Linked DNA regions of Homo sapiens: all the other regions are linked to region 2. The links come from fine-mapping of genetic effects on gene expression. A gene starts in region 2. Each other region holds a variant in brackets. All regions are shown on one strand. Distances are from middle to middle. Region 1 overlaps ARID3A (AT-rich interaction domain 3A). Region 2 holds the start of GPX4 (glutathione peroxidase 4). Region 3 overlaps ARID3A (AT-rich interaction domain 3A).

What was found. PIP is the estimated chance that this variant, and not a neighbour inherited with it, causes the effect.
Region 1: its variant is fine-mapped to the expression of GPX4 in ileum (CEDAR, PIP 0.95).
Region 3: its variant is fine-mapped to the expression of GPX4 in spleen (GTEx, PIP 0.98).

The regions. Positions count from the first base shown.
Region 1 is chr19:970,380-980,983 of GRCh38, forward strand. It overlaps ARID3A (AT-rich interaction domain 3A), which reads left to right. Exons shown (of 9, transcript NM_005224.3): 9 at 1,499-5,560. The coding sequence ends at 1,686. Among named protein-coding and RNA genes, the nearest start is that of WDR18, 8.7 kb to the right of the region's middle. RefSeq lists enhancers at 9,686-10,276, 10,227-10,371 and a cis regulatory region at 10,292-10,305. The variant T/C (reference allele first, on the strand shown) is at 5,008.
Region 2 is chr19:1,099,729-1,109,198 of GRCh38, forward strand. GPX4 (glutathione peroxidase 4) reads left to right here and starts at 4,266. Exons shown (of 7, transcript NM_002085.5): 1 at 4,266-4,399; 2 at 5,458-5,552; 3 at 5,638-5,782; 4 at 5,930-6,081; 5 at 6,514-6,538; 6 at 6,672-6,731; 7 at 6,812-7,051. The coding sequence starts at 4,316. The coding sequence ends at 6,844. It overlaps SBNO2 (strawberry notch homolog 2), which reads right to left. Exons shown (of 32, transcript NM_014963.3): 30 at 9,407-9,470; 31 at 9,051-9,241; 32 at 7,910-8,976. The coding sequence ends at 8,492. RefSeq lists silencers at 566-703, 3,992-4,071, 4,082-5,101 and enhancers at 1,816-2,350, 2,840-3,209, 3,240-3,289, 3,310-3,389, 6,692-7,568 and 1 more.
Region 3 is chr19:935,186-945,789 of GRCh38, forward strand. All of the region lies in intron 3 of ARID3A (AT-rich interaction domain 3A), which reads left to right. Among named protein-coding and RNA genes, the nearest start is that of ARID3A, 14 kb to the left of the region's middle. RefSeq lists silencers at 5,532-5,651, 5,712-5,991. The variant C/T (reference allele first, on the strand shown) is at 6,009.

The DNA.
Region 1 (10,604 bases), 130 kb before region 2:
CCCACGCCTGTAATCCCAACACTTTGGGAGGCTAAGGAGAGAGGTTTGCTTGAGGCCAGCCTGGGCAACACAGAAGACCCCATCTCTACAAAAGAACATAAGTAAATGAATAGTTTTTCTTTTTTTTTTTTTTTTTTTTTTTTTTTGAGACAGAGTCTCACTCTGTTGCCCAGGCTGGAGTGCAATGGCATGATCTCAGCTCCTGCAACCTCCGCCTCCTGAGTAGCTGGGATTACAGGTGCATGCCACCAGGCCCGGCTAATTTTTGTATTTTTAGATGATACGGGGTTTCACCATGTTGGTCAGGCTGGTCTCGAACTCCTGACTTCGTGATCTGCTGGTCTTGGCCTCCCAAAGTGCTGGGATTACAGGCATTAGCCACCACACCCGGCGGTAAATGAATAGTTTTTCTTAAAGTGGAGTCAGGCCGATGGTTCATAGTGGCCACCAGGTGGCGCTGTCGACACAGAGCAGCCTTGTTGCAGGCCCCCGCCCGGCTGTGGTCAGAGGCTGAGCTGAAGGTCAGTGGTGTCCTCACAGGTCCACAAATGGATTTTTGAGGGGTCCGTGCCCTCCGGAAATCAGATGTAAAACGTGTACATTCATATTGAATCTTACAGGGGAGAAGGCCAACTGTGTGCTAGGGGTCTCGCAACCCCACATCAACGAACCATGGGCATCAGGGTTCTCCCTGCAAGAGCTGTGTGCACGCTGATGTGCATGTGTGGATTAAACACACGTGTGTGCTCACGTGCATCCATATATATGCACATGTGTGTGATGAAGGAGTGAGCAGACACAGTGGGGAAGTTTAAGCTGGGCTCACGTCTGTAATCCCAGCACTTTGGGAGTCAGAGGCAGGAGGATTGTTTTAGGCCAGGAACTTGAGACCAGCCTGGGCAACATATTGAGAGCCCATCTCTACAAAAAATAAAAAATTGCTAAAATATTGCCAGCCACAGTGGCTCATGCCTGTCATCCCAGCACTCTGGGAGGCCAAGGTGGGTGGATCACCTGAGGTCAGGAGTTGGAGACCAGCCTGGCCAACATGGTGAAACTCCGTCTGTACTAAAAATAAAAAATTGGCTGGTGTAGTGGCAGGCGCCTGTAGTTAGTCCCAGCTACTCAGGAGGGTGAGACAGGAAAACTGCTTGAACCCAGGAGGTGGAGGTTGCAGTGAGCCAATATCGCACCACTGCACTCCAGCCTGCGCGACAGAGCGAGACACCATCTCAAAAAAAAACAAAAAAATAAAAAATTAGCCAGACATGGTGGCACGCCCCTGTGGTCTCAGCTACTCGGGAGGCTGAGCTGGGAGGATCACTTGAGCCCATGAGGTTGAGGCTGCAGTGAGCTCTGATGCCACCACTGCACTCTAGCCTGGGGGACAGAGTGAGAGAGAAGTTTATTCCCCGGAGCACCCCATTGGGTCTCCCTTGTGGCCCGCCTCGCATCTTCTTAAACTCTGCATGGCATATGTCTTCTGTTCTTGCCTTAGGAGTTCTGTTTGCTCAGCCGCCGGCCCCCACGCCAACCTCTGCTCCCAACAAAGGAGGCGGCGGCGGCGGCGGCAGCAGCAGCAACGCAGGCGGCCGGGGAGGAAACACCGGAACCAGCGGCGGCCAGGCTGGGCCAGCGGGGCTGTCCACACCCTCCACATCTACCTCAAATAACTCGTTGCCTTAACCGCATCACTCCCCACCCGCCACCCACCCTGGAGCCCGCCGGCCTGGGCAGGGGGTCCAGGTGGGCCACACAGGGGCCAGGATGGCGGAAGATACGGGTGGGGAGGGAAGATATCCAGAAAGGAGCCACAGCTGACGCCAAAAAGAAAAGAAAAAAGATATATATATATATATATATATATACACGTATATATATAAAGAGAATTTAATAAAACAGGGGAAAACCAAGGAACACTTGAATTTCTCAGGTTTTGGACATTCAGAGAGATGAATTGTGAGAACAGCAAAGAAATCCATCAGAAAAACAGAAAGAGGCAGACGTTTCCCAGGGCGTTCAGGCAGCCCTGATGGACCGAAGGCTCTGGTGTCTGGTTTGGCCCCACAGCAGTGTGGGCCGATCCTGTTTACCTCATACATCCCTGCACTGTGTGTTTTCATTTTTGTCTGCTTTAGTTCTCTTTTATTTTCTATTCACCACACACTCACCACTCCCAGCTTCTCGTGTCCAGTGAAACCCCTGAACCAAGATCACTGAATTTTTGTTTTTTTCTTGTTGCTTTGGGAAATTTTTTTTTCTCTGTAGGGTTTTTAAGAGGTTTCGGGGGTTTTGTTGTGTAAATATTCTATTTTATTCTTGGGGGGATCAAACCTTAGGAAAAGGATATCTATATATCTATATAGCTATATATTTGTGTTCCTTCAGGGAAACTGGTCTTGAAAAAGCAAGAAAAAAAAGCAAAAAAAAAAAAAAAAAAAAAAAAAAAAAACTCACCTTTTTATTTTTCCCATGACCAATTTGGGTCCCTTTGTCCATTTCTGGGGGTGCGTTGGGCAGCTGTGAGCCCAGCACATCGGATCCCTGGGGCTAGAGCCGCGGAGCCAATGAACTCAGGTGCTATGGGCCGGGCTGGGGCAGAGGGTGCATGCTGGGGTCCCACCGGCCAGGGGCCCCTGACAGTGAATTGCTGACTGTGATATTCCACGATGCTTTTGCTTGTGCCGTGCTTGTCTGCTGGGCTCTCGAGTCAGGGGCCTGGAAATTTTTTTTTTTTTTTTTTTTTGAGACGGAGTTTTGCTCTTGTCGCCCAGGCTGGAGTGAGTGCAATGGTGCGATCTTGGCTCACTGCAACCTGCACCTCCCAGGTGCAAGCGATTCTCCTGCCTCAGCCTCCGGAGTAGCTGGGATTACAGGCGCCCGCCACCACGCCCAGTTAATTTTTGTATTTTTAGTAGAGATGGGGGTTTTGCCATGTTGGTCAGGCTGATCTCGAACTCCTGACCTCAGGTGATCTGCCCGCCTTGGCCTCCCAAAGTGCTGGGATTACAGGCATGAGCCGCCACGCTGGCCCGGTCTGGAAATCTTATCTAAAAAGTAGCAAGTGCTGGAAAAAGGGCCTGGGGGGCGGGGGTGGTTCTTGTCGAAGCCCCCAGGCTCCTGTCTCAGGGATGAATGTGGCGTCTCATTGGGATTCTTCTCTTGCCCGAAAGGGCTGCTTTTGAGGACTATCAATACTGGGGAGTGGGGGTGAAGCCGGACCTCACTCAGGGTGAGGATTTCAGGGCCCCGGCATCCTGAACACCCCCCACACCCCAACATTCTCCTCGCTCTGTCCCTTCCTCTTCTCCCAACCCCTTTTGTGCTGGGGCTGCGAGCTCCCCGAGTTCTGCGGTGACTAAATCGAGGCCGAGAAGGGAGGCTGCCCCCCACCACCCTGTGGGTCAGTACCCCTCCCCCTGGCTTGGAGAAAGTGGGGTCACCGCAGCTGAGCTGGGGGGTTATTTTGGCTGGAGCTGCTGGAGCAGAAAGGCTGGGTCTGAAATGCCCAGCAGGGTCTGGGGACTTCGTTGGACCCGCGTGGTGTTGGGCGGGGCTGTCGTGTCCTACACGGGAGCTCTGGGCTTTCATTTCTCTTGGGGTGCAGTGGGGATTAACTCAGCTATTCCCAGGGTAAGCCTGGGTCTCTAATTGGGCCCTGGGAGCCCTGTTAGGCCACCGGCATGGGGGCTTGGTGAGGAAGGGGACTCCCCAGCTCCCCCCACTCCCAACCACCTCCCCATTGCCTTGGAGACCCCTGGGGAGGGGGCTGGGGGGCTTCTGAGCCCCTGAGTCTAGGTTCACTTTCCCGTCGGGCTGTGGGAGGGGACTGTCACTTTCCTGTGTCTTTGGGGAGGGGACCCCCACTTCCTTCTCGGATCTCAGGGCCGTGGACACACACCCCCTTTCCAGGAGGGGGTGGTGGGCGTCTAGGTTTTCCTTGTCCCTTCCTGGGGCCAGCACCGTAGCAGCACAATCACCCCGGGAAGGGGGTGTCTGTTTGCCTCCAGACACAATCGGGCCCCACTCGCAGAACCACCTGGACTCTGTCCGTGTCTGTCCCCCGGCCTCCAGGGCTCCTCTCCCGGGACCCCCGTCCCACGCCTGGGCCCCGCGCCGGGGGAAGCGCCTGCTGCCTATCTCTGTCTACCTCAGGTCTGACTTTTGATGCCAAAATCTGAGCCCCTGGGGTGCCTCTCCCCCGCCTCCCGTGCACCAGGGTCTGCAGCAGCCACTGGGGCCTGGCTGCCTGCTGCATCTGGCGGCCCTGGACCCCTGGGGCCCCCGTGCACCTGCCCACCTCGGAGCCTGGGGAGGGGCCGTGCAGGGTCGAGGGCTGGGTCGTCTCCCTCGGGCTGCGTGTGTGTGTCGGGAATCCTGCGTGTCGTGTCTGTGGGCGATCCGGCCTCCCGGCGGTGGGTGGACCTGGATTCTAACTCAGAGGACTTGAGCCTGCTGTTAACTCCGATGATTGTAGGGACAGGCGGGGTGGGTGGGGGGTGGGCGCGAGGCTGGGTCCCGGCCCAGGAGAAGGAAGTCGCTGAAGGCAGTGGCCATGCTGGCCGTGGAAATGGGAGGCGGTTGCAGAGGGTCTATGGGGCCCGGTCCTGGATACTCGGCAGGAAGCCGTGTCTGCAGAGGCTCCTCCCTGCCTCAGGTGGCCCCGTTCAACCCCAGCCGTGCCCATCTCCTGCCACCGCCTGTCGGTGGGGGTTTAAATTCGGTGTGGCTTTCTGGGGTGCAGCTCAGCACCCCCCCTTATGCAGACTGGGAGGGGGTCGGGCAGTCCCCTCAGCCACGAGGACCCTGGATGGGTTCTAGTTCACTTGGGACCGTGGGGCCTGGCTGCGTACTGAGTGGGTGCCCCACAGTCAAGGCCAACGGGGGCTCCCCCTGCTCTGAGATGTTGGGAGAAAGGCGGCTTCTGGAACCTTCCGTGGGACCCGTAAGTGGCTGTCCAGAAAGGCGGGAGGGTGGGCACGGGGCACGGGGGGCAGCTGGGGTCGT[T/C]GTTAAGGGTCACGCATCTGTACAGTTGAATTTCCTTTCTCTTATCATGTTTTACCCACCTTGTCCCTTTTTTCCCCAATTGTGCTTTTGCATTTTTTTCCTTGGCAAATGTAAACTCAGCCTTTCATTCATGACGTGTGAAATTTCAGTTTCTCTGGAGTTTGTCAGACGGCGTGGGAACCACGCCTGAAACTCAGGTAATAGGAGGAAAAAAAAAAAAACTTAAAAAAATTTTTAAAAAACATAAAACTACTCTCTACCTCTGGCTGGGCCCAGCCTGTCTCGCCCTGGCCGCGGCAGGGTGGCCTGTAACAATTTCAGTTTTCGCAGAACATTCAGGTATTAAAAGGAAAAAAAAAAAAAAAGACAAAAAGACCAAAAAAAAAAAAAAGTGTGATTTTGAAATTTAAAAGAACACTGAAAGTTTACATTTTATAGTAACATTATTATGCAGATTGTATTTAAACTTCAGAAATATTTAAGACGATTGTAACCCTGTAAAGCTGATGAGATATTAAAACGAGACAAAACACTTCTGACTTTTAACAGAAAAGTGTCCTGTGGTGTTTTTTTTCTTTTGGCGTCTCCCCAACCTCCAGCTCCACCCTACACCCCTGCCCAGCACAGCCAGGGGTGAGTGGAAGGGGGTGCTCTATCCCCCTCTGCCCTGCATCGCTCTAGGTCTGGTTCCGGGCGGCAGAGACAGCTACAAAAGCGGGGGTCTGGCCAGGTGCGGTGGCTCACGCCTGTTATCCCAGCACTTTGGGAGGTCTAGGAGGGCGGAATCACCTGAGTTCGGGAGTTTGAGACCAGCCTGACCAACATGGTGAAACCCCATCTCTACTAAAAATACAAAATTATCCGGGCGTGGTGGCGCGTGCCTGTAATCCCAGCTACTCCGGAGGCTGAGGCAGGAGAATTACTTGAACCCAGGAGGCGGAGGTTGCAGTGAGCCGAGATTGCGCCACTGCACTCCAGCCTCGGCGACAAGAGGGAAACTCCATCAAAAAAAAAAAAAAAAAAAAAAGCAGGGGTCCTCAGCCAGGGTCTGTGCCCCCAGGGGGACCCTGGTCCATGTCTGGGGGCATTTGTGGTTGTCACGCCTGGGGGGGCGCTCCTGGTGTGGAGTGGGTGGAGTCCTGGGATGCTGCTCGGCACCCTGAGTGCCCAGGACGGCCCCACCGCAGAGAACAATCTGGCGCCCAGCATCCACACTGCAGGAGTTGGGAAATTCTGCCTTCATTATTTAAGGTGGGGTAAAAACAGTTCTCCCTGCCCACAGCAGACACCAGGATAAGCTCCTGACAGGGCAGACGGTGTAAACCCGGGGGAACCCAGCTCCTGGGACTCGCCTCCTCTCTCCCTCCCTACTCAGGGCATGGATTTCAGTGTGTGCAGCCTCCTGGGACCCCAGCAGGGCCGAGGATCATGGGATGCAGAGTCTGTAGGGGGTCCATGGAATCCCCTAACCCAGAGGGCCTTAACCAGGGTGATTCCGCCCCCAGGGGACCCTGGTCCATGTCTGGGGACATCTGTGGTTGTCCCATCTGGGGGGAGCTCCTGACATGGAGTGGGTGAAGTCCAGGGACGCTGCTCGGCACCCTGAGTGCCCAGGACGTCCCCACCCCAGAGAAGGATCCAACCGCAAGGTCCACAGGGCCGAGGGGAGCTCCTGGAGGCCGCTCTGGGCACCTCTGTGCCTCGCTGAGAGCCCGACACCAATCCCGTTTTAGGGATTTGGGATGACAGGTGTGGCAGGGCCAGTGTGCGCACCCCCAGCCACCTGCCCACGAGCCTGACCCCTCGCCTCCTGCCTCAACAGGGCTCTGCATGCGGGCGCCCCTGGCGTTATCCGACCGGAGCTCCCAGGGCAAGTGGCCCGGTCCGGCCTCAGGGCCTTCACACAGCTGTTCCACCGCCGGGAACAGCCCTCTCCCCCTTTGCTCTGACAGACTCCTTTCCATCCTCTGCAGCCGACACACAGTCCCCGCCTGCCCATGACAGGAGGGTGCGGCCCCTCGGGTGGGAGGCACGGGGCTCCCCGCTCCTCCGCCCTCTGTGCGGCCCAGATGGAGGCCCTTGTGCCGAGCGGGACACCCTGTTCCCGAGCCCCCCATAAGTTTGCCCTCCTTCACCTCCTAGGCGAGCCCAGGAACCAGCCCACTGGTGAAGCCGCCTGGAGCTGAGGCCTCTGGGGTTCAGGGGCGTCCTGGTGGCTGGGGGAGGGAACTTTTCCAGTGCTGGCCACATTTTCACCTTTTCCCTTACAACACCATTCGGGTCCTAGGAAACAAGACCAAGGGCCAGATTTGGCCCCTGGACAGCCAGTTTGCAGCCCCCAAACCCAGAACATAGTAAAGGGACTCAGCTGGGGTCAGAGGTTCACACCCGTAATCCCAACACTCGGAGGCTGGAGCGGGAGGATGGATAGAGCCCAGGAGTTTGAGACCAGCCTGGGCAACATAGGGAGACCCCATTTCTACCAGAAATTAAAAAAAAAAAAAAAAGCCGGGCATGGTGGCTGCGGTGAACAGTGATCATGCCATTGTACTCCAGCCTGGGCAACAGCAAGACCCTGTCTCTCTCTCTCTCTTTTTTTTTTTTGAGACGAAGTCTCGCTCTTTCTCCCAGGCTGGGGTGCAGTGGTGCATTCTCGGCTCACTCCAACCTCTGCCTCCCAGGTTCAAGCAATTCTCCTGCCTCAGCCTCCCGAGTAGCTGGGAGTATAGGCGCCCGCCACCACACCCGGCTAATTTTTGTATTTTTAGTAGAGATGGGGTTCCACCATGTTGGCCAGGATGGCCTCGATATCCTGACCTCGTGATTTGCCTGCCTTGGCCTCCTAAAGTGCTGGGATTACAGGCATGAGCCACTGTGCCTGGCCCCTTTTTTTTTTTTTTTTGAATCAGGGTCTCACTGTGTCAACCAGGCTGGAGTGCAATGGCACAATCTTGGCTCATTACAACCTCTGCCTCCTGGGTTCAAGCGATTCTCCCAACTCAACCTCCCAGGTAGCTGGGATTACAGGCACGCGGCACCACGCCTGGCTAATTTTTGTGCTTTTAGTAGCAACGGGTTGGGTTTTCACCATGTTGGCCAGGCTGGTCTCGAACTCCTGACCTCAAATGATAACACCCACCTTGGCCACACAGGGCCAGCCGGGACCCTGTCTCTTAAAAATAATAATAAAAGGCCGGGCACGGTGGCTTACGCCTGTAATCCTAGCACTTTGGGAGGCCAAGGTGGGTGGATTGCCTGAGCTCGGGAGTTCGAGACCGGTCTGGGCAACATGGCAAAACCCTGTCTCTACTAAAATAAAAAAAATTAGCTGGGCGTGGTGGTGTGCACCTGTAGTCCCAGCTTCTTGGGAGGCTGAGGCAGGAGAATTGCTAGAATCTGGGAGGCAGAGGTTGCAGTGAGCTGAGATCAACCCACTGCACTCCAGCCTGGGTGACAGAGCAAGACTCCATCTCTAAAAACATTAATTAGGCCGGGCGTGGTGGCTCATGCCTGTAATCCCAGCCCTTTGGGAGGCCGAGGCGGGTGGATCACGAGGTCAGGAGATCGAGACCAGCCTGGCCAATATGGTGAAACCCCGTCTCTACTAAAAATACAAGAAATTAGCTGGGCGTAGTGGCGGGCGCCTGTAGTCCCAGCTACTCAGGGAGGCTGAGGCAGGGGAATGGCATGAACCCAGAGGCGGAGCTTGCAGTGAGTCGAGATCACGCCACTGCACTCCAGCCTGGGTGATAGAGCGAGACTCCGTCTCTAAAAACATTAACTAATTAATTAATTAAAAATTAAAAAATAAAAGGCCTCTCGTTCTTAGCCCACAAACCCAAAGAAAGTGGTATTGCAACGTTTTCCCAGGAAAGGGTTTCCTGGGCCGCCTAACCCACTGTCCACCCTCCCATTGCCCACGCCCAGGGGACGTGACTGGAGGAGGGTCAGCGTGGCTGGAGGTGGACAGGCCCAGACTCAGCTGCCCGGCCTCCCGCGCACCATCCTGGCCGAGGCTGGCCGGGACACGTCCCTCCCCAGGGCTGTGTTGGAGGCGAGGGACCAACAACACCCCCACACCTGTCCCAGCCGGTTGGTTCCTGAAACCCACGTTAGACCCTGGCCCCGGAAGGGAAAATGGCATTTTCCATTCCAGCCAGAAATGAGTCTGCCAAACCCTGCGTCCCGGAGATGGAGTCCCACTCACTGCCTGGAGGAGCCCGCCGGCCCCAGGGAGAGGAGGGAAGAACCCTGGGAAAGCCCCCACCCCAAACTGGATCGTCAGGCCCTGCTTGTTCACCCGCAGCTGAGGGCCTCAGAGGCGGGGAGTCAGGGAGGGGGTGCACCTCTGAGTTCCCCAGCCTGGGAGGGAGGGACTCAGCCCCCAGCTCTCCCCAGCCAGGGAGGGACTCAGCCCCCCACCTCCTCCCCAGGCCCCCACCTCTCCCCAGCCAGGGAGGGACTCAGCCCCCCACCTCCTCCCCAGGCCCCCACCTCCCTCCCCAGCCAAGGAGGGACTCAGCCCCCCACCTCCTCCCCAGGCCCCCACCTCCCTCCCCAGCCAAGGAGGGACTCAGCCCCCCACCTCCTCCCCAGGCCCCCACCTCCCTCCCCAGCCAAGGAGGGACTCAGCCCCCCACCTCCTCCCCAGGCCCCCACCTCCCTCCCCAGCCAGGGATGGACTCAGCCCCTCACCTCCTCCCCAGCCCAGGAAGGGCCCAGCCACCCCCTAGCCTCTCAGAGCCCAGCCACCTCCCTGGGCCGCCTGCTAGGTGCTTGCTAGGAGGGCGGGAGGCTCCCGGAGGTGAAGCTCAAACCCTCCTCTGATAGCCGATTTTCGGAGCCAGCCAAGAGTCCAGACTGGAGAGGCGGCGGCTGAGACGCTTCCAAAAGCAGAGGGCTACCAGAGCCGGCTGCTGCTCTCCCCACTGGCATAGGTAATGATGGGGCTGCCGCGGGACGGCCGCAGCTGCTGGGTCTGTGGGGCCAGGACCGGGGCAGCCAAGCCGACTGGGGTCTGGCTGGGTTCATCAGTGCCTGCAAACTGGCGGTGCTCCATAAATGTGCAGGGGATGGAGAATGAGGGCCTTACACCCCGAGGGGAACGTTCCTGCCTCTGTGCCTCAGTTTCCCCTTCCTGGTTACCCCCCCTTCACAACCTCCAGCTGGCACCAACGAGATCCGGCCGCTGGGTGGTCTGGAGATGCCCCCAAAGTGTGGCTTCTGTCCCCTGCTCCAACACGATTAGTCTGTCCTCATTCCAGGAACCAGGCTGGGGGCGGGGTGACCTCTGACCTCACACTGCAGCCTGGCCTGGCCACGTCCCCAGGGAGGGGAGGAGGGGAGGAAGGCCTGGCTCGGGCTGGGCCGCAGCAGGAGGCCTGTGAGAAGGTGGAGACTGTAGTCCATCGACTTCCTGCTGCCCCTGCCCTCTCCTGCCTGTGGCAGCAGCCCACACCTGCCCGGTCTGCTGGGTGTCCTGGAACCCGGGAATTTAAAAACTTCCAGGCTGGGCCAGGCGGTGGCTCATGCCTGTAATCCCAGCACCCTGGGAGGTCGAGGAAGGAGGATGGTTTCAACCCAGGAGTTCAAGACCA
Region 2 (9,470 bases):
CAAAAAGAGAAAACAGCCCATAGCCGGGCATGGTGGCGCATGCCTGTAATCTCAGCTATTCAGGAGGCTGAGAAAGGAGAATTGCTTGAACCTGGGAGGCGGAGGTTGCAGTGACCTGAGATTGCGCCACTGCACTCCAGCCTGGGTAACAGAGTGAGACTCTGTCTCAAAAAAAAAAACCCCAGATGTCCATCCACAGATGAATAAATAAACACAATGTGATCCCTCCACACACTGGAATATTTCTGAGCCATGAAAAGGAATGATGAGGCTCTGACACAGGCCACAATGTGGATGTAGCCTGAGGACCTCATGCTCAGTGAGAGAAGCCAGGCACAAAAGAACACGCAGTGTGTGATCCCATTTCCATGAAATGTCCAGGACAGGCCAATCCACAGAGACAGGAGGGGATGTGTGTGTGCCAGGTCCTAGGGGAGGAGATGGAGAGTGAAGGCTGATGGGGTCTGGGCTTCCTTTGGGGACAATGAAAATACTCTGTGCTGGGTGCGGTGGCTCACGCCTGTAATCCCAGCACTTTGGGAGGCCTAGGCAGGCGGATCACCTGAGGTCGGGAGTTTGAGACCAGCCTGACCAACATGGAGAAACCCTGTCTCTACTAAAAATACAAAACTAACTGGGTGTGGTGGCGCACGCCTGTAATCCCAGCTACTTGGGAGGCTGAGGCAGGAGAATCGCTTGAACCTGGGAGGTGGCAGTGCAGTGAGCTGAGATCGTGCCACTGCACTCCAGCCTGGGCAACAAGAGCGAAATTCTGTCTCAAGAGAAAAAAAAAATTCTGGAACTAGATAGATAGAGGTGATGGTCTCATAACATTGTACACGTCCTAAAAACACTGAATTGTACACTTTGAAGTGTTAAAATGTTGAATTTCATATGTATTTTGTTTGAATTTCAAAAACTTTTTTTTTTTTTGAGACAGAGTCTTGCTGTATCCCCCCAGGCTGGAGTGCAGTGACACGAACTCGGCTCACTGCAACCTCCACCTCCAGGGTTCAAGCAATTCTCCTGCCTCAGCCTCCTGAGTAGCTGGGATTACAGGAGCACGGCACCACTCCCAGCTAATTTTTGTATTTTTAGTGGAGATGGGGTTTCCCCATGTTGGTCAGGCTGGTCTTGAACTCCTGACCTCGTGATCCACCCGCCTTGGCCTCCCAAAGTGCTGGGATTACAGGCGTGAGCCATTATGCCTGGCCCTAATTTTTGTACTTTTAGTAGAGACAGTTTCCCTATGTTGGCCAGGCTGGCCTCAAACTCCTAACCTCAGGTGATCCGCCTGCTTCGGCCTCCCAAAGTGCTGGGATTACAGATGTGAGCCACCGCACCCAGCCAAAAAGTTTTTTTTGAGACGGAGAGTCTCGCTCTCTTGCCCAGGCTGGAGTGCGGTGGTGCGATCTCGGCTCACTGCAAGCTCCGCCTACCGGGTTCACACCATTCTCCTGCCTCAGCCTCCCGAGTAGTAGCTGGGACTACAGGAGCCCTCGACCACACCTGGCTAATTTTTTGTAATTTTAGTAGAGACGGGGTTTCACCGTGTTAGCCAGGATGGTCTCGATCTCCTGACCTCGTGATCTGCCCGTCTCAGCCTCCCAAAGTGCTGGGATTACAGGTGTGAGCCACCATGCCTGGCCAAAAAGATCTTAAAAAAGAAATGAAGCCACAGGACAGCCCCTCCCCAGTCCTTCCTGGAGCCAGGGGCTGCTCTAGAAAGATATGTGGCAACACAGCTTCCTGCAGGGACACTCAAGAACTTCCGCCCTCACAGGGCTGGAGCCTTGAGAGGTCCCCGAGACTCCATTTCCCCGTTCGTGAAATGGGGACACTCTGGGAAAAGCTGTGAAGCCCCCAGCACAAATCTCTCCCAGAGCCTGGGGCCCCGTTCTCAGATCCGAGGTCGCGACCCCGTGTTTTCCCCACTTCTGACTTTATCACAATTGGCAGGAAGTCAGGAATGGGATCAAGTCTCTCCGCGGAGCTGTGGGTGCTGAGCTGTTTTTCTGGCAACCCTGAAATAAACTCCCATTTCAGTGCACATGTTTGCAACAAACTTAAGGAAAACAACACCGGCAAAATTGCGAACAGCTGAGCCTTCGCAAGGGCAAGAACAGAGTCACCAGTGTGGCCCTGTCACCCGGCACTGCCAGGGCGGGAGGAAATGGGGGGGTTTCCTGAGAAGTCAGACAATGGGAGTTGACTCCAAGAACTCAGCCTCTAGGGGCTGGGCGGGAGCAAAGCCATGTGAACAGACTTATGCAAGACCAGGATTCGGCCAGCCCTGCTCAGGGATCCTTGCTTCACTGCCTCTGCCACCAAACCATCCATGACGCCTCTGTGCTGCATCTGGCAGGCCTGAGTCGGGGGCAGTGGCGGGGGCAGGCTCATAGCACCCCCCAAGTCAACCCGGCCCTGAGTCTGTCTCTGAAGAAATACTCAGTGCAGGGTCAGAAAAGGTTAAGACCTTGAGGACAACATACAAATCCCAAGCACCTAGGCGGGGTAGAGTGGCTCACACCTGTAATCCCAGCACTTTGGGAGGCCGAGGCAGGCGGATCACCTGAGGTCGGGAGTTCGAGACCAGCCTGACCAACATGGTGAAAGCCCGTATCTACTAAAAACACAAAAATTAGCTGGGCGTGGTAGCACATGCCTGTAATCCCAGCTACTCAGGAGACTGAGGCAGGAGAATCACTTGAACCCGGAAAGCGGAGGTTGCAGTGAGCTGCGATGGAGCCACTGCACTCCAGCCTGGGTGACAGACCAAGACTCCTCAAAAAAAAAAAAAAAAATCCAAACCCCTGCCTGTACAGGGGTCAAAGTCCAATCACGGTGACTCAGTTCCCAAGTATGAGATGAGTGTTTCTGTTGCCACATGTCCAAGCCACGAAGTGAAAAACAGAGTTGGAAGCCAAGATGTGGGGCAGTATGGGCTCGGGTGTGCCCATACCTTGTAATGTTAGAAGTGTAAGAAAACCCTCCAGACTTGTGTTTATTTTCTGAGCACATACCGCGCGTCCCTGCGTGGGCAGCTGCCCCTGGGGGTGGGAGCCCAGGAAACTCCAGGTTCTCAGTTAAGTGGTAACTGTCTTGATGACTCTCAGGTCTCAGTGCCCACATTATACAAGCGGCTCAGCAACCAGACCCAGGATGGGGAGTCACTGACCCCCTGCGCCCATGGCAGGGGTGAGGGTAGGGACACCCCCATAAGATGGAGCTGTGATGAGAAGCAAACCCAACTCAGTTTGGTTTCATTTACATTAAAAAGGCAAATCCCTTGGCCGGATGCGGTGGCTCACACCTGTAATCCCAGCACTCTGGGAGGCCTAGGCGGGCAGATCACCTGAGGTCAGGAGTTCGAGATCAGCCTGGCCAACATGGTGAAACCCCGTCTCTACTAAAAATACAAAAAAATTAGCTGGGTGTGGTGGCTCGCTCGTGTAATCCCAGCTACTCAGGAGGCTGAGTCAGGAGAATCGCTTGAACCCGGGGGCTGGGTGGAGGTTGCAGTGAGCTGAGATAGCGCCACTGCACTCCAGCCTGGGCAAAAGAGCAAAAAAACTGTGTCTCGGAAAAAAAAAAAAAAAAAAGGCAAATCCCGGCCGAGCCTTTGGCTCACGCATGTGATCCCAGCACTTTTGGGAAGCTGAGGCTGGAGGATCACTTGAGGTCAGAAGTTTGAGACCAGCCTAGGCAACATAGCGAGACCCCCATGTCTACAAAACAATAATTAGCCAGGAATGGTGGATGAGCCTGTTGTCCCAGCTACTCGGGAAGCAGAGACGGGAGGTTCGCTTGAGCCTGGGAGGTCGAGGCTGCAGTGTGCCCTGATCGTGCCACTGCACGTTAGCCTGGGCAACACAGCAAGACCCCGTGTCTTAAAAAAAAAAAGGTAAATAAGAGTTGGGGACACTTTTCTGCGAGTTGGAGAAACCAAACCCCCTCGACGAGTCTTAAGTAGTATTCTCAGGTTGTCTGGCCTGCGGCCGCGCTGCTGTCAACCAGCCGGATAACTGCGCTGCCTCCCGACGCGCCGCCAGCCAGGCCACGGCCTCCTAGACACAAGCGAGCATGCGCAGTCGCCAACAACAAGTCCGCACGTCCGGTCCCGCCCCCCCTTCCCCGCCTTCTTCCCACTCCGGCCTCCCATTGGCTGACGTCGGCGCGAGCGCTCAACACCGACGCGTCTGACCAATGAGCGCTCTGGAGGGCGTGGCCGTGGGAAAGGAGGCGCGGAAAGCCGACGCGCGTCCATTGGTCGGCTGGACGAGGGGAGGAGCCGCTGGCTCCCAGCCCCGCCGCGATGAGCCTCGGCCGCCTTTGCCGCCTACTGAAGCCGGCGCTGCTCTGTGGGGCTCTGGCCGCGCCTGGCCTGGCCGGGACCATGGTGAGCTAGCGCCGCGGCCGTTGCCGGCCCGGTGACCGTTGGGGCGGGCGCGCGATCCCTGCCTCCGCTCGCCGGCGTGGGGAACCCTCAGGCTCCAGTGACCTTGGTGGGGGGCGTCTGGGGGCTCCCCCTCCCCACCCCCGGCCGGGCACGGACGCGGGTGACCGTACTGCGACGCGCTCCGCGGCCCTCCAGGCCGTTGTAGGCGCGCGGGCTGGGGTCGGGGAAGGGGAAGGGGTTGTTCCACGCGCGCGGGTCGTGGTCGGGGAAGGGGCCGTCCAGGCCGTTGCAGGCGCGCGTGCCGGGGCCGGGGTCGGGGGTCCAGGCTTGCAGGGGGCGGGGTCCGGGACGGCTGGGGCGGAGCTGGACCGTTGAGGGCCACGGCGGGGCGTCTCCGGGCCGAGCGGGGCTGCTGCGCCCGAGCGGTTGGGGGCGCGGAGGGCTGGAAATCCCGGATCACGCGCCCCCGGGCGCCGCCCCGCCCCCGCACCTTGGCCTAGCGCGGTGGCGTCACAGTCGCGCAGTCCTGACTACGGCCTCCGGGCCCTTTGTCCCCGCTAGCGGCGCTCGGGGTGGGGGAGCCAGGAGGGGCGGGAGACGGGCGGGTATGGGCCGCGCGGGCGCAGGCTCCCCCGGGCGCCGCAGGCAGCGGTGCCAGAGCCGGGGCAGGCGGCGGCCGCGAGCCCCTCGGCGGCGGAAGGCCCCAGCGTGCAGGCGCAGGAGGGCGCGGCGCCGGCGGAAGAAGCCCTGTCCCCGCAGCTTGCGACCGGAGATCCACGAATGTCCCAAGTCCCAGGACCCGGTGCGCGCGGGGCCCCCACACCGGCTAATGTGGCACATTTTGGGGTTGGAACCCTCTCCCGGCCTCCGGGTCTCCGGTAAAACCGGACCAGAAGTACAAGGGGGCGTGTGCGTTTAAGGAGGAGGAGCGTTCAGGTCTTCAGGGCCGCAGGGCCTCGGTGTCCCCGCCACCGACCCGCTCCCGATCCCTTCCTGCCTCAGGGTCCCGGGCTCAGCCTCCCGTCCACGCTCCCTGCTCAGCTTCCTTTGCCTTGCAGTGCGCGTCCCGGGACGACTGGCGCTGTGCGCGCTCCATGCACGAGTTTTCCGCCAAGGACATCGACGGGCACATGGTTAACCTGGACAAGTACCGGTGGGCGCTCGCCTGGGGTGGGGCGCGGGGTCGGGCCCTGGGAGGGGGCCGTGTTCTTCTGCGCTGACGCCGCCGATCCTCGCAGGGGCTTCGTGTGCATCGTCACCAACGTGGCCTCCCAGTGAGGCAAGACCGAAGTAAACTACACTCAGCTCGTCGACCTGCACGCCCGATACGCTGAGTGTGGTTTGCGGATCCTGGCCTTCCCGTGTAACCAGTTCGGGAAGCAGGTGGGCTGCTGCGTCCCCGGGGCCCGCAGAGGCGGGTGGGTGGGGGTCGGGGTGGGCTCCAGCCTGGAGAGGGCCTGGGAGTGTGCAGGGGGCCCGGACTGAGGGGGTGCCAGCCCCCGACTCACTCACACACCTTGGCCGCCACAGGAGCCAGGGAGTAACGAAGAGATCAAAGAGTTCGCCGCGGGCTACAACGTCAAATTCGATATGTTCAGCAAGATCTGCGTGAACGGGGACGACGCCCACCCGCTGTGGAAGTGGATGAAGATCCAACCCAAGGGCAAGGGCATCCTGGGAAAGTGCGTGACCTCTGGGGACAGTACGGCTGCTGGGGTGGGGGTGGGGGGGCTGCTGGGATGCTCACACCTCCCTGGGGCAGAATGGCTCATGGCTCGGGGGGCGGTTGCGGGGAGGTGCTGGGACTCTCACATCGCGTGGCCTCCTGGGGGTAAGATGGCTCAGGGGGACATAGAGGGCTGTGGAGGCAGCCAGGGATGCCCACACCTTTGTGGCCTCCTGGGGACAGGATGGCTCGGGGGCCTGTGGGGGGCTGTTGGGACTCTCACACTGCATGGCCTCCTGGGGTAAGATGGCTCTGGGGGGGCTTGGGGGCACTGTGGCTGTGGAGGCAGCCGGGGAAGCTCACACCCTTGTGGCCTCCTGGAGACAGGACAGCTTGGGGACTGTGGGGGGCTGCTGGGGACGCTCACGTCCATGTGCTTCTTTTCCAGTGCCATCAAGTGGAACTTCACCAAGGTAAGGGGGCTGTGGGGGGTAGGGGACCAGCTTCCCCTGGCCACAGCCGTGGCCCAGATGGGCAGCGGACAGGAAGGGCAGCCTCAGCCCCTTGCAGGGGTGGCCCCACAGTTTGGACACCGTCTCTCCACAGTTCCTCATCGACAAGAACGGCTGCGTGGTGAAGCGCTACGGACCCATGGAGGAGCCCCTGGTAGGTCCTCTCTAGGGAGCCCGCTTGAGGCTCGGGGGCTTGGGAGGTAGCTGCCCTAACCCAGCTTTCCTCCCCGACAGGTGATAGAGAAGGACCTGCCCCACTATTTCTAGCTCCACAAGTGTGTGGCCCCGCCCGAGCCCCTGCCCACGCCCTTGGAGCCTTCCACCGGCACTCATGACGGCCTGCCTGCAAACCTGCTGGTGGGGCAGACCCGAAAATCCAGCGTGCACCCCGCCGGAGGAAGGTCCCATGGCCTGCTGGGCTTGGCTCGGCGCCCCCACCCCTGGCTACCTTGTGGGAATAAACAGACAAATTAGCCTGCTGGATCTTTCTGCGTAGGGGCTTGGGGGGCCCTTTTGCCAGGGGCCCCTCCATGTCAGGGCCAGTTGCCGTCAGCTGCCAGGCTGGGGGTGCCATGGAGGTGGCGTGTTGTTGCCCCCTCTTCCTCCAGGCTCGGGGGGCTGTGCTGGCTGCAGTGCTGGGGTGCAGTGAGATCTGGGCCCGTTGGACACCCAGCCCTGGCTCTTAATCCGTGCAGCCCCACCTGCTGTGCACAGGCAGGGCCTGGTGTAGTGCCGAGTCTTGGAGGAGATAATTCTAAGTGGCTGTGCTTCCTGGCCCCGGGCCTTAACTGTTAGGAGGTGGCTACTGGGGCCTCCCCTGGCCAGGAAGCAGAAGTGCAGAGGCCCGAGGAACAGCGTGGCCCTGGTGCTGGGGATGGGTTGGGCACCCACACCGGCCCTTGGGGCCTCACCTGGCTGGGGGGTGTGGGGGTGGCTGGGTGGTTACTGTTTGCACAGAGTCCCTCCGTGAGGGCTGGGGATGGACAGGCCAGGAGGGGCTGGTAGAGCAGTACCAGCCACCGTTCATGGGACCCGGGGGCTGTCTGGACACGGCCTGGCTGCCCACCTGCACAGCTAGAGGGACTGCAGCCTGCCAGGGTGGCTGATCCCAGCTGCCCCCACTGGGGGTCTGTGGAATGGACGGTCCATGGCACCTGCCCCAGACACTGGGTTGAGAGGTCTGTCTCTCCCAGCCCTCGTCCCCTCTCATCCACATGGGGCCAGCACAGGCAGTGGGCAGAAAGGCCTGGTAACCAGGAGAGCCTGGGGGGATGCCCACACACCCCTGCCCTTCCCTCCCTGTCCCACAGGCTGAGGAGCAGACTCCGTGGGAAGTAGGCAAAAGGCACATATATTTAAAAAAGTCCTTTACATATGTACATCAGAACTTGCTATAAATACATAGAAACCGCAGGCGCCACCCTGCCAGCTCCGCGGCCTGGGGCCTGGGAGAGGTGAGCGGGCAATAACTTAGGGGTCAGGGAAGGGCTGGGGGAGGGAGAATTGCATATATTAGCAGGGGTCTGCCCCACGGAGCCCCCGAGACGCGGGGCCCTGAGCACCTGGGGTTTCCTGAGTTTCTAGCTCTTGGGACCACCCGGTTTCACGGATTTCAAGGGTTTGGGCCCACTGAGCCCTTGTGGGTGCCCAGTCCCAGAGCAGCCACCCGGAGCCCCTTCCTACTTGGGAGGAGAGGCACAGAGAGGGCCCTGCCACGCCCCGGCCCCCAGCTGTCCTGAGTGGGCCCCGCCAGGGCTGACCAGGTGGGGGCCCGGGTCGGGCGCTGAAGGCACTGCGGCCAGGGCCTAGGGCTCCTCTGAGCAGTGGTCAGGGGACCTTGGCCCTGCTCCCCACCGCTGCTCCTAGGGGAGAAACGGTCCCTGTGTCTTGGGGCATGTTTCGCCTAAAGGCGTGTCAGAGAGGAGCCTGGGCGCCGGGGAAGGGTGGGCTGAACTGGATCACGCTCTGCCGCTCGGGACCACCGCCCGCCGCGCCCCCCGCCCCCGCGCCCTCCCCCAGCGCGCCCTCGGAGGGCGGCCCCGCGTGCAGCGAGCGCAGCATGTCCTCCAGCACCTCCTTGAAGTTGATGTCGCAGCCCTGGTGCGCGAGGGCCGCAGGGTCGGCCTGGGCGTCGGGGGTGCCCAGCGGCACGACGCCGGGGCCGGCGTCCAGGGACAGCGGCGCCGGGAAAGAGAAGTGCGGGGGCGGCGGGAAGGCCTCGGCCGGGGGGCTGTAGGTGAGGTCCAGCACCTCTCCGGGGCCGCAAGGCAGCGCCAGCGGGCGCGGGGCGGGCGGGGCGGGGCAGCCCAGGGCGGGCGCCTGCCTGCGCTTCACGTCCGCATCCATCAGCCGCAGCTCCTGCAGCACCCGGCGCACGCAGCCCTCGGGGATCTTGATGCCTGCGGGCAGAGCGTCGGGGTCAGGGCCGGCGCTGGGGGCTCGGGCCTTCCCGGGGCGCCCGCCGCCCACTCACCCACTTGCTTCTTCCTGTCCTTGGTCTTCAGCCGCACGATCTGCAGGTAGCTGCTGCTGCTGACGTCGGCCATGACGGCGGCGATGCGGCCCCACACGCGCAGCAGCGCGCCGCACAGCATGTAGTGGTGCCGCAGCCGCAGCCCCTGCAGGCAGTCCTTACCCTCCTGCGCCAGCCGGCAGTGCCGGTTCCTGCGGACGAGACGGGTCGTCTCGGCTCAGGCGGGTCCCAGGGGCCCGCAGGCTCCCCAGGTGCCCTGAGATCTCCCGCCTCCTCTCAGGGTCTCGGGAGCCCCCGATCCCCGCCTGGGTCGCCGCCATCTGCCGGTTTCCCCCTGGTCCCCGGCCCGCCCTCACCAGGCGCTGTGGCTGCAGTGCGTCAGCGACAAAGCGTAGCCACTCTCCCAGGGCTCCTTGGCCT
Region 3 (10,604 bases), 160 kb before region 2:
TTCCGCCTGCAAATCCTCGACAGCTGTGAAATTCTGCTGTCGGCTGCAGGTCTGGTGGGTGGCCAGGCCGCGGCGGGGGGCCGGGCGCAGCAGGCTCAGGGCCACGGGTTCTTTCCTTGGACACCTGGAACCTTGCTGCCTGGGGCCTGGGGACGTGCAGTTTTGGAGGCCAGCACGTGTCGGGCAGTGATTAGGATCTCAGCCTCCTGATGTCTGACGTAGCCTCCTGGTGGCCTCCTGTCACCCACACAGCAGGCCCAGCTTCTAGAAAGCGGCCACGGTAGGATTTTATTGGATTATTATTATTTTTGAGGCAGGGTCTTACTCTGTCGGGTAGGCTGGAGTGTAGTGGTGCTGTCCTAACTCACTGCAGCCTCGATCTCCTGGGTTCAAGCGATCCTTCTGCCTCAGCCTCCTGAGTAGCTGCGAGTACAGACGGGCGCCACCAAACTCAGCTAATTTTTGTAGAGACGGGGTCTTGCTATGTTGCCCAGGCTGGTCTAGAACTCCTGGGCTCAGGTGATCTGCCCTCCTTGGCCTCCCAAAGTGCTGGGATTACAGGCGTGAGCCACCGCACCCCACCATGGTAGGATTTTATTTATATATTTGTTTATTTATTTTTTGAGACGGAGTCTCGCTCTGTCGCCCAGGCTGGAGTACAGTGGCGCGATCGCGGCTCACTGCAAGCTCTACCTCCCGGGTTCACGCCATTCTCCTGCCTCAGCCTCCCGAGTAGCTGGGACTACAGGCATCCGCCACCGCGCCCGGCTAATTTTTTGTATTTTTAGTAGAGACAAGGTTTCACCGTGTTAGCCAGGATGGTCTCGATCTCCTGACCTTGTGATCCGCCTGCCTCGGCCTCCCAAAGCGCTGGGATTAAAGGCGTGAGCCACCGCGCCCGGCCCGTGATGGGATTTTACACGCACAGGCGGTTAATCACAGATCTTCAGCTGCTTAAGGATTTGAACCTTTAGTCTCAACAATTCTAATAAGTGTTGAATGAATTTGAGATGAATCTTAAAAAACAGCTTTATTGGGCTATACTTCATATGCCATACAATTCACTGTTTTAATTGTACGATTGGGGCCAGGCACAGTGGCTCACACCTGTGATCCCGGCACTGTGGGAGGCCGAGATGGGCAGATAGCCTGAGCCCAGGAGTTCTACACCAGCCTGGGCGGTATAGCAAGACCCCATCTCTACAAAAATTAGCTGAGTGTGGTGGCGCACACCTGTAGTCCCAGCTACTTGGGACCCTGAGGTGGGAGGATCCCTTGAGCCCAGGAGGACAAGGCTGCAGTGAGCCGTGATCGCGCCACCACACTCCAGCTTGGTGACAGAGCGAGACCCTGTCTCGAAAAAATAAGAAGGATAGGGTGGGTGCAGTGGCTCACGTCTGCAATCCCAGCACTTTGGGAGGCCGGGGCAGGCGGATCACGAGGTCAGGAGATCGAGACCATCCTGGCTAACACGGTGAAACCCTGTCTCTACTAAAAATATAAAAAATTAGCCGGGCGTGGCAGCACGCGCCTGTAGTCCCAGCTACTTGGGAGGCTGAGGCAGGGGAATCACTTGAACTCAGAAGCAGAGGTTACAGTGAGCCGAGATCATGCCACTGCACTCCAGCCTGTGTGGCAGAGAGAGATTCTGTCTCTAAATAAATAAAATAAAATAAACCCTGACCCTTTAACTATTATCCCCCTATTCTACCAGCACGCCCCAGCCCCTGGCAACCACACATCCCCTCCTGCCTCTGTGGATTGGCCTGTTCTGGACATTTTATAGAAATGGGATCACATAGCTGGGTGCAGTGCTTCACGCCTGTAATCCCTGTACTTTGGGAGGCTGAGGTGGGCAGAGCACCTGAGGTCAGGAGTTTGAGACCAGCCTGGCCAACACAGCAAAACCCTGTCTTTACTAAAAATACAAAAATTAGCTGGGTGTGGTGGCGGGCACCTATAATCCCAGCACTCGGGAGGTTGAGACAGAACCGCTTGAACCCGGGAGGCGGAGATTGCCGTGAGCCGAGATCGCGCCACTGCACTCCAGCCTGGGCAACAGAGGGAGACTCCATCTCAGAAAAACAAGAACAAAGAAAAGAAATGGGATCACACACTGCGTGGCCTTTTGTGTCTGGCGTATCTCACTGAGCGTGACGTCCTCCAGGTGCATCAGCACCGTGGCCTGGGTCGGAGTCTCCTTCCTTTTCACGGCTGAGTCATACTCCGCTGGATGGATGTGCCGTATTGTGTTTGCCCGTTCCGCTGTTGGTGACCACTCGACCTGTTTCTGCCTTTTGGGTTTGTAGTGCTGTACACGTTTTTATGTGGGCGTACGTTTGTATTACTTTTGGGTGTGTATCTGGGAGAATTGCTGGGTCTGCTGGTGACTCCATATTCACCCATCAGAGGAACTGCTAGACTGTTTAGCAAGCAGCTGCCCACGTTACCTTCCCACCAGCCACAGATGTGGGTTCCAGTTCCTCTACATCCTCACCACTTGTTATTGTCGACTTTTTTTTTTTTTTTTTTTTTTTTTGAGACAGAGTCTTGCTCTGTCACCCAGGCTGGAGTGCAATGGGGCGATCTCGGCTCACTGCAACCTCCACCTCCCGGGTTCACGCCATTCTCCTGCCTCAGCCTCCCGAGTAGCTGGGACTACAGGCACCTGCCACCACGCCCAGCTAATTTTTTTGTATTTTTTAGTAGAGATGGGGTTTCACCGTGTTAGCCAGGATGGTCTCGATCTCTTGACCTCGTGATCCGCCCGCCTCGGCCTCCCAAAGTGCTGAGATTACAGGTGTGAGCCACTGCGCCCGGCTAATTTTTTGTATTTTTAGTAGAGACGGGGTTTCACCGTGTTGGGCAGGGTGGTCTTGAACTCCCAACCTCAGGTGATCCTCACACCTCAGCGTCCCAGAGTGCTGGGATCACAGACGTGAGCCACCGCGCCCGGCCTGTTGTCGACTTTTGATCCTAGCCTCCTTGTGGGGGTGGCGTGGTTTCTCACTGTGGTTCTGATTTTCATTCAGTGTCAGGATCTCTCCCTCTGCTTTCCAAAGTAAAGCTTGCTGCCCATGTAACTTGCAGATGAGCTCAGAGGTGTAGGAATGACGGCACTAGCCGGTATCTGTTGCTTCACTGCGTGAAGAAAGTGACTGAGTGTTTTAGATGGGTCGTCTCCCAGATCCTCACTGGATCCCAAGGAGCTGCCGTTGAACCTGTTGTGCAGACGAGAAACTGAGGCATGGGGTGATCACATGACTTGTGCACAGTCGCCCGGGGGACGTGTCAGAGCTGGAATTTGACCCCCGGGATGCACCTGCCAGAGAGGACCCAGCGGTGTGTGGATGGATGGCCCAGGGAGCTGCTGGTGGGACGGTTTTGGGGAAGCTCAGCTGCCCCTCCGTTTTTCTTTTTGTCTGGAATGAAAGTGGTTAGACCAGGCCAGACCTCAGTGCTGTCCTCATATCCAGGCCTCCGGGCCTGACAGCTGGGCGTGTGTGGGCACTGGGGCAGGGACGGCCACCAGCAGCCTCTCAGGCTCAAGGCCAGACACACCTCGCTGGGCCCAGCCCCAGAGACCGCTGGGTCCTCACCACGGTGCCTGCCAGGCAGCTCTCGGGAGTGAAGCGAGACCCCAGCAAGAAACGGGCATCCGGTTTTTGGTCTTTTTTTGGTCTTTTCAGCTCATTTGTTTTTTTTAATTGTGGAAAATACACATAGATACATTATTTTATCTCTCTTTTTTTTTTTTTTTTTTGAGACGGAGTCTTGTTTTGTCACCCAGGCTGCAGTGCAATGGTGCAATCTCAGCTCACTGCAACCTCTGCTTACTGGGTTCAAGTCATTCTCCTGCCTCAGCCTCCCAAATAGCTGTGACTACAGGCGCGTGCCACCACACCTGGCCTATTTATTTATTTATTTATTTATTTATTTATTATTATTATTTTAGACGGAGTCTTGCTCTGTCACCAGCCTGGAATGCAGTGGCGCCATCTCGGCTCACTGCAACCTCCGCCTCTCGGGTTCAAGCAATTCTCCTGCCTCAGCCTCCAGAGTAGCTGGGACTACAGGCGCCCACCACCACACCCAGCTTATTTTTGTATTTTTAGTAGAGACGGGGTTTCACCATGTTGCCCAGGGTGGTCTCGTATTCCTGACCTCGTGATCTGCCCGCCTCGGCCTCCCAGAGTGCTGGGATGACAGGCCTGAGCCACCGCGCCCGGCCTCTCGATACACTTTTGGTTCCAGAAGTAACACTTGACACTCTTCTTGCAGAGAGGAAGAAAATGGAACGTTTACAGGGAGCCCCGAGTCCCTCCCTTGACCTCTAGGGCATGAGCCGCATGTTCTCCAGGCCTTTCTCTGCCCACTCACACCCAGGAATGTGACCTGGGAGGTATCTAACGTGTGATCTTCCGGGCAGGTCGGGAGGTTCCTCCCGCCGCTGCCTTCGAGGAGCTGTTTATCTTGGGTGCGTTCGCGTCGTAATTGGGATGTTCCGAGCCACCTGGTTCTTTTCAGCTGTATGGACGTTCCCCTCGTGGCGCTGGACACCCCCACGTCCACACACTTCCCTCGGTCATTTCCCTGTTGTAAGCAATACTGTAACGAACATCTTCGGGGCGTGAGAGTTGCTTGGAGCAGTGTGGGGAGGAGGTGGGGAGCTGGAATTGCCAGGGCTCTGGGAGAATCGGCAACACGTTTTCTTCGTCGTGCCCCGGAGACCCCCAGACTGGTGGGAGACAGAGCTGGATGTGAAGGTAGCACTGGGGTCTGCCGTGGCCTCGCCACGTCCATTTCAGACTGAGGCTTAGGGGCGCTGCTGGGCTTCCCCACATCCCTCGAGGGGTCAGGGCTGGGCTAGAGGGGATTGAGGGGGAGGCTGCCAAGAGGAAGGGGCATTGGGGCTGGGGCTTTGCAGGATGTGTAAGAGTTTGTTAGCGAGCCACAGCAGGGCAGGGCCTGCCTCTGGGATCACTGTGACTGGAGCGTAATGTGTGGGGCCAGGGTGGCCAACTTTTTGGCTTCCCTGGGCTACATTGGAAGAAGAAGAATTGTCTTGGACCACATGTAAAATACAGTAACACTAATGATACCTGATGAGCCAAAAAAAATTGCAAAAAAACTCTCATCGTGCGCTAAGAAATGTACGCGTTTGCACTGGGCCGCATTTACAGCCGTCCTGGGCCGCGGGTCAGTCAAGCTCTCGGTGTAGCAGGAGGGGTGGGCAGAGCTTGAGGGCACTTGGCAGGGTTTGGAGCTGGGAGAAGGAGGCTGGGAGGACCCTTCTGGAGCCTGTTTTGGAGACAGAACGGAGGCACCCTTGGTCCAGGCAGGAGTAGAAGAGGCCAACACTGCAGCTGGGCTTCTGGGGCCTGAGAAGAAGGAGAAGGAGGAGAATTTTCCCAGCACAGGCGGGTGCTCTAGGCAGATGGTGCAGCTGGGGCCTTTGCCCAGAGGTCAGGCAGCAGGTTCCGAGCACACAGAGGCAGCGGCTGTGTTTGAGACAGAGTGTGTTTGTCAAGAGAGCCCCGAGCCAGGCCCTCGGCCGCCAGCCCTGGTGCCGGCGTCTTCCTGGGCCTCCGGGAGCCCCGGCTGCACGTGAGCCGCCGGGAGGGCTGTCGGGAAGCCCCCTGGGCACCTGGTCCTCCCCACCGGGGCAGCGCCCGCCTCATCAAAGCCACTGTGGCTGCTGGCGCCGGGCCAGCTGGGCCCTGGCGGGCGAGGGGTGGGTGGGTGCCCGCCAGCCCCTGGCACTGTGCCCCGGCCCGTGCCCGTGCCAGGAGCGTCGCTGACTCAGCCGGAAGAGCCTTATCTGGCCCCTGCGCCACCGCCTGGCCGTCGGGTCACCGCCGCGGGGTCACCGCCGCCGCGGCCTGGCCCCACGCCCACCGCCGGCGTCCCACCCTGGTGGCTGCTGCCAAGCGCCGGCCCCGCCCCATGCTTTCTAATAACACACGCGGCAGCCCGAGGGAGCGGTGCCCGCAGGCAGAGAGTGTCCC[C/T]GCGTGGTGCCTGGGCGGGGGAATGGGCGTGGTGAGCCGCCGTGGCGTGCGTGCGAGTGTGCACGCTGGGGCTGTGGCCGGGCGGCTCGTGGGTCCTGTCTCGTGGGACCCTGCCTGGGAGGGAATCTTGCTCCAGACACAGCATCTTCGGACCCTCCAAGGCCTCTGCCCACCGGGCACCTGCTGGATTCTGTGGGTCTCGTGTGTGGGGCTGTGTGCACCCAGCCAGCGGCACCTCACGCGCCCGCCTGCGTGTCCCCAGCCAGCACCACGGTGTTCGTTTAGGTCTCTGTGTGCCGAGTGACGTGGCAAACTTCCCACGTCCCTGTTTTGCGTGGACCTGTTGGTGAGTGTGTCCAGACGTGTGTCTGCCCTGACGTCCTTTGTGAATGTCTATGTTGGGGTGATGATCTCCTGTGTGTGCATTTTTTTAACTATAAAGATGGGGTCTTGCCATCATGTTGCCCAGCCTGGTCTCAAACTCCTGGGCTCAAGTGATCCTCCCGCCTCGGTCTCTGAAAGTGCTGGGATTACAGGCGTGAGCTGCTGTGCCGGACTGGTCTCTTGTGTTTTGTGTGGATGTGGCTGTGTGTGTGTGTGTGTGTGTGTGTGTGTCAGGGGTGGCTGCAAGCGTATGTGTGTGTGCACGTCGAGGCTGGAGAGTGTGTGTCCAAAAGCGTGCCTGCTTGGGCTCGCCACGTGTGCGCACGTGTGCCCGTGACAGACGACCTTCCTGTGTGCCTGAGCATTTGGGAGCCTCGTGCTGGACCCTGAAGCATGAGGTCGCGGTGGGGCCTATTAACCATTAGACCCCCGGGGCTGCTAGAGAGTGGCGCTGTCTGTCTTGGTCAGCAGCGCGCGTCGGCCGCGGGGCACAGATCAGCGCCTCCCCTGCCCGCCATGGGCTCTGGAGCCAGCCTAGCCGATGATGGAGCCCCAGTGGCCACCGAGCTATGGACAGGGCCGCTGGGGGTGCACCCCCACCCTCTCCGACCCCGAGGAGCTGCCGGCAGAGCCCTGTCCACTCTTGCCTCAGTTTCCCTGCTGGACACAAAGGGCTGAAGTCCAGGTCCCTTCGATGGCCCAAATTACCTGACTGTCGATCCTGACTGGGGCGGTGGCGACATGGCCCCCGCAGCTGCCCGGCGGTGGCACCCAGGGGCGTCACCCACGAGGGACGCTTGACTCAAGGTCCTCTCCACTGGCCGCCGGGAGCCGGGCCGGGAGCCGCTGCGGTGCCGACCTGGTGGGTGGCACACGGGGGGCGGGTGCGGACCGCCTCTTCTCCGCTCTGCCGGCTGCACATGGCCAGAGGACAATTGGGGGTCACAGGGTTAAACGCTGACTAATCTGGCCATTGAAGGCCCAAGCGCCGGGATATGCAGCCTTGCCCCTTGGTCAGGGCTGGGCTGGGGGTCCGTGGGCACAGGTGGGTGGGCAGGGAGTAGGTGGAGGCCGCCCCTCCCACTGCCCCGCAGGCCCTGGTTCTGGCCAGGCTCAGGAAGTGAGCTCCCTGGGGACCCAGGCCCCATGTCCAGAAGCCACGCTGGACATAGTGCCCAGATTCCATGCCCAGCAGCCTCCTCTGCCACCCTCAGAGACGGAGAACGTGAGAGCAAGTAAGAACCCGCCTTCCGGGAGGAGCCCCGTCTGGATTGGATGGCATCGCCCAAAACTCACGTCCACCCAGAACCTCAAGATGGGACTGCATTTGGAAATAGGGTCTCTGAAGATGTTAGTTTCAGTGAGGTCCTGCAGCGTACGGTGGCCCCAAATCCCATGCCGGTCGGTTGTCCTCTAAGGGGGAGGTCACACCTGTGATCCCCGCGCTTTGGAAGGCCAAGACGGGAGTTTCGCTTGAGCCCAGGAGCTTGAGACCAGCCTCAGCAACAGAGTGAGACCCCTGTCTCTACACAAATTAGCTGGGTGTGGTGGTGCGTGCCTGTGGTCCCAGCTACTCTGGAGGCTAAGGCAGGAGGATTGCTTGAGCCCAGGAAGTCGAGGCTGTAGTGAGCTATAGTGGCACGACTGCACTCCAGACTGGGCGACAGGGCAGGACCCTGTGTCAAAAAAAGAAAAAAAAAAAAAAAAGGACGGGCGCGCAGTGTCTCATGCCTGTAATCCCAGCACTTTGGGAGGCCGAGGAGGGCGGATCACCTGTGGTCAGAAGTTTGAGACCAGCCTGACCAACATGGTGAAACCCCGTCTCTACTAAAAATACAAAATTAGCCGGGCGTGGTGGCGGGTGCCTGTAATCCCAGCTACTTGGGAAGCTGAGGCAGGAGAATTGTTTGAACCCAGGAGGCGGAGGCTGCAGTGAGCTGAGATCGCACCACTACACTCCAGCCTGGGTGACAGAGCGAGACTCTGTCTCAAAAAAAAAAAGAAAAGAAAAAAGAGAAATTTGGACACGGACACGTAGGGAGATAGCTGTGTGGAGACAGAGGCAGAGGCTGGAGCGATGTGGCCACAAGCCAAGGACACCTGGAGCCCCCAGAAGCTGGGAGAGGAGGGAAGGACCCTCCCCTGGAGCCCCAGTGACACGCTGATGTCAGACTTGTGGAGAGAAGAAACCTCTGCTGACGTGGCACCGTGCCCTGGGCAAGGTTAGGGCAGAAACACCAGGCTGTGCCTCCCTGGGCACACATGTGTCTGAGCCCGACCCTTTCATGGGCACTTACGGAGCACCTGCTGTATGCCAGCCCGACCCTCTCATGGGCACTTACGGGGCACCTGCTGTATGCCAGCCCGACCCTCTCATGGGCACTTACGGGGCACCTGCTGTATGCCAGCCCGACCCTCTCATGGGCACTTATGGGGCACCTGTTGTATGCCAGCCTGACCCTCTCATGGGCACTTACGGGGCATCTGTATGCCAGCCCGACCCTCTCATGGGCACCTACAGGGTACCTGCTGTATGCCAGCCTGACCCTCTCATGGGCACTTACGGGGCACCTGCTGTATGCCAGCCTGCCTGCGTACTGGGGACACAGCCGTGCATGAAGCAGAAGCTCCTGCCGCCGGCACTGGAGTCCTGACGTCGGCAGCGCGGTGGAGGGCGGGCCTGTCTCGCCGTTATCTCCCAGGCGTGTCTGCTCCCCGTGTGTCTGGCTGCAGGGGCGCGTCCAGGGGGTGTGTGTGTGTGTGTGTGTGTGTCTGCGTGGGAGTGTCTGGCTGTGTGGCTGCACGGAGGCCTGTCTGGGTAGGAGTGTCGGTGGGGGCGGTCCCACACGGCCATGGTTTGTGTCTGCCACGGCCTCAGCCCCGTTGCTTCGGTCGATGCCCCCAAACCTTGACCCATCTCAGGGGCACCACGCTCACTGCTACAAATGTGGGTCTTCCGGGCAAGTGAGCGTCCCCCACCCAGGACCCCCGACCCCGGCCCTGGGAGGGCCCGACTGCCAGCCTGGCTGAACCTCCTTCATTGTCTGGTTTTCGGGGGTGGATTTTGAGACAGGGTCTCGTGCTGTCACCCAGGCTGGAGTGCCGCGGTGCAGTCATAGCTCACTGCAGCCTCGACCTCCCGGGCTCCGGTGATCTTCCCGTGTCAGCCTCCTGAGTAGCTGGGACCACAGACACTCGCCACCACACCCGGCTAACTTCATTTTATTTTTTGGAGACAGGGTCTTGCTGCGTTGCCCAGGCTGAACTCCTGAGCTCTTAGGGGAGCCGGGATGTCCCTGGGTCCTGCGGTCGCTCTCTGTCTCCATCTCTTCTTTCTCCTCTCCCCTCTCCCTGTCTCTGCCACCCGCCCCGTCCCTTCCACCACGTCGCCCTGTAATTCTTCCCTGACGGCCATTTTTCCGGGAGTGGCTGGGCGTCTCTGCCCTAGCTGGCGCCCTGCCCAGCCACTGCCCCCACCCCTCAGTTGGCCACATGCCCATCTCGTGGGGGCCCTTGGACCTGGTTCTTGGGGAAGAACTAGACAGATCACCTCTGTGGTTATTCATTGCTTTAATGCCACCTGGGGGGAGAGAGCCTGGGCACACCAACATGCAGAGATCCCAGCTCTGCCCGACCTGGGCCTGGTGCCTGTGACCTCCTCCTCTCGGCCTCAGTTTCCCCGCCCGTAAGACGGGGATGGTATCAGAAGGAGTGCAGCTCTTGTGACTTTGTTTTCATCCTTGGCCTTTACGGTTCACCAGGTTTCTCCTGTAACTCCTGTAGAGAGGGGACGGCGTGTGGCATGGCCCCTGCTGCCTGACCCAGCCCACCTCCGTCTGCTCCCTAGCGGGGAGGTGTCCAGGGCGGCCCCAGCCCACCTCCGTCTGCTCCCTGCAGCGGGTGGGATGGTGGGGTGTCCCTGGAGCGGGCAGAGCCTTGAGTGACTCCTCCGAGGCTGCTGCCCATGGTAGGGGCAGTTCCTGTCCTGCCCTCAGCCTGGGGTCTGGCAGAAGCTCCGGCCAGGTGTACCCCAAGGGACCCCGGACCCTGAGCCCACCAGGGAGGGCCCTTCCTCTTGACTCTAGGGTGGGAGGTGGAAGCAGCCCCTTCCTTCCTGCAGCCGTCTTTGGGCCCGGACTCCAGGCAGGCCCGTGTCCCATTGTGGGGACGGCGTCGACATGGCCGGGGCAGGCGTGTTCTGGCCCCTTGCAC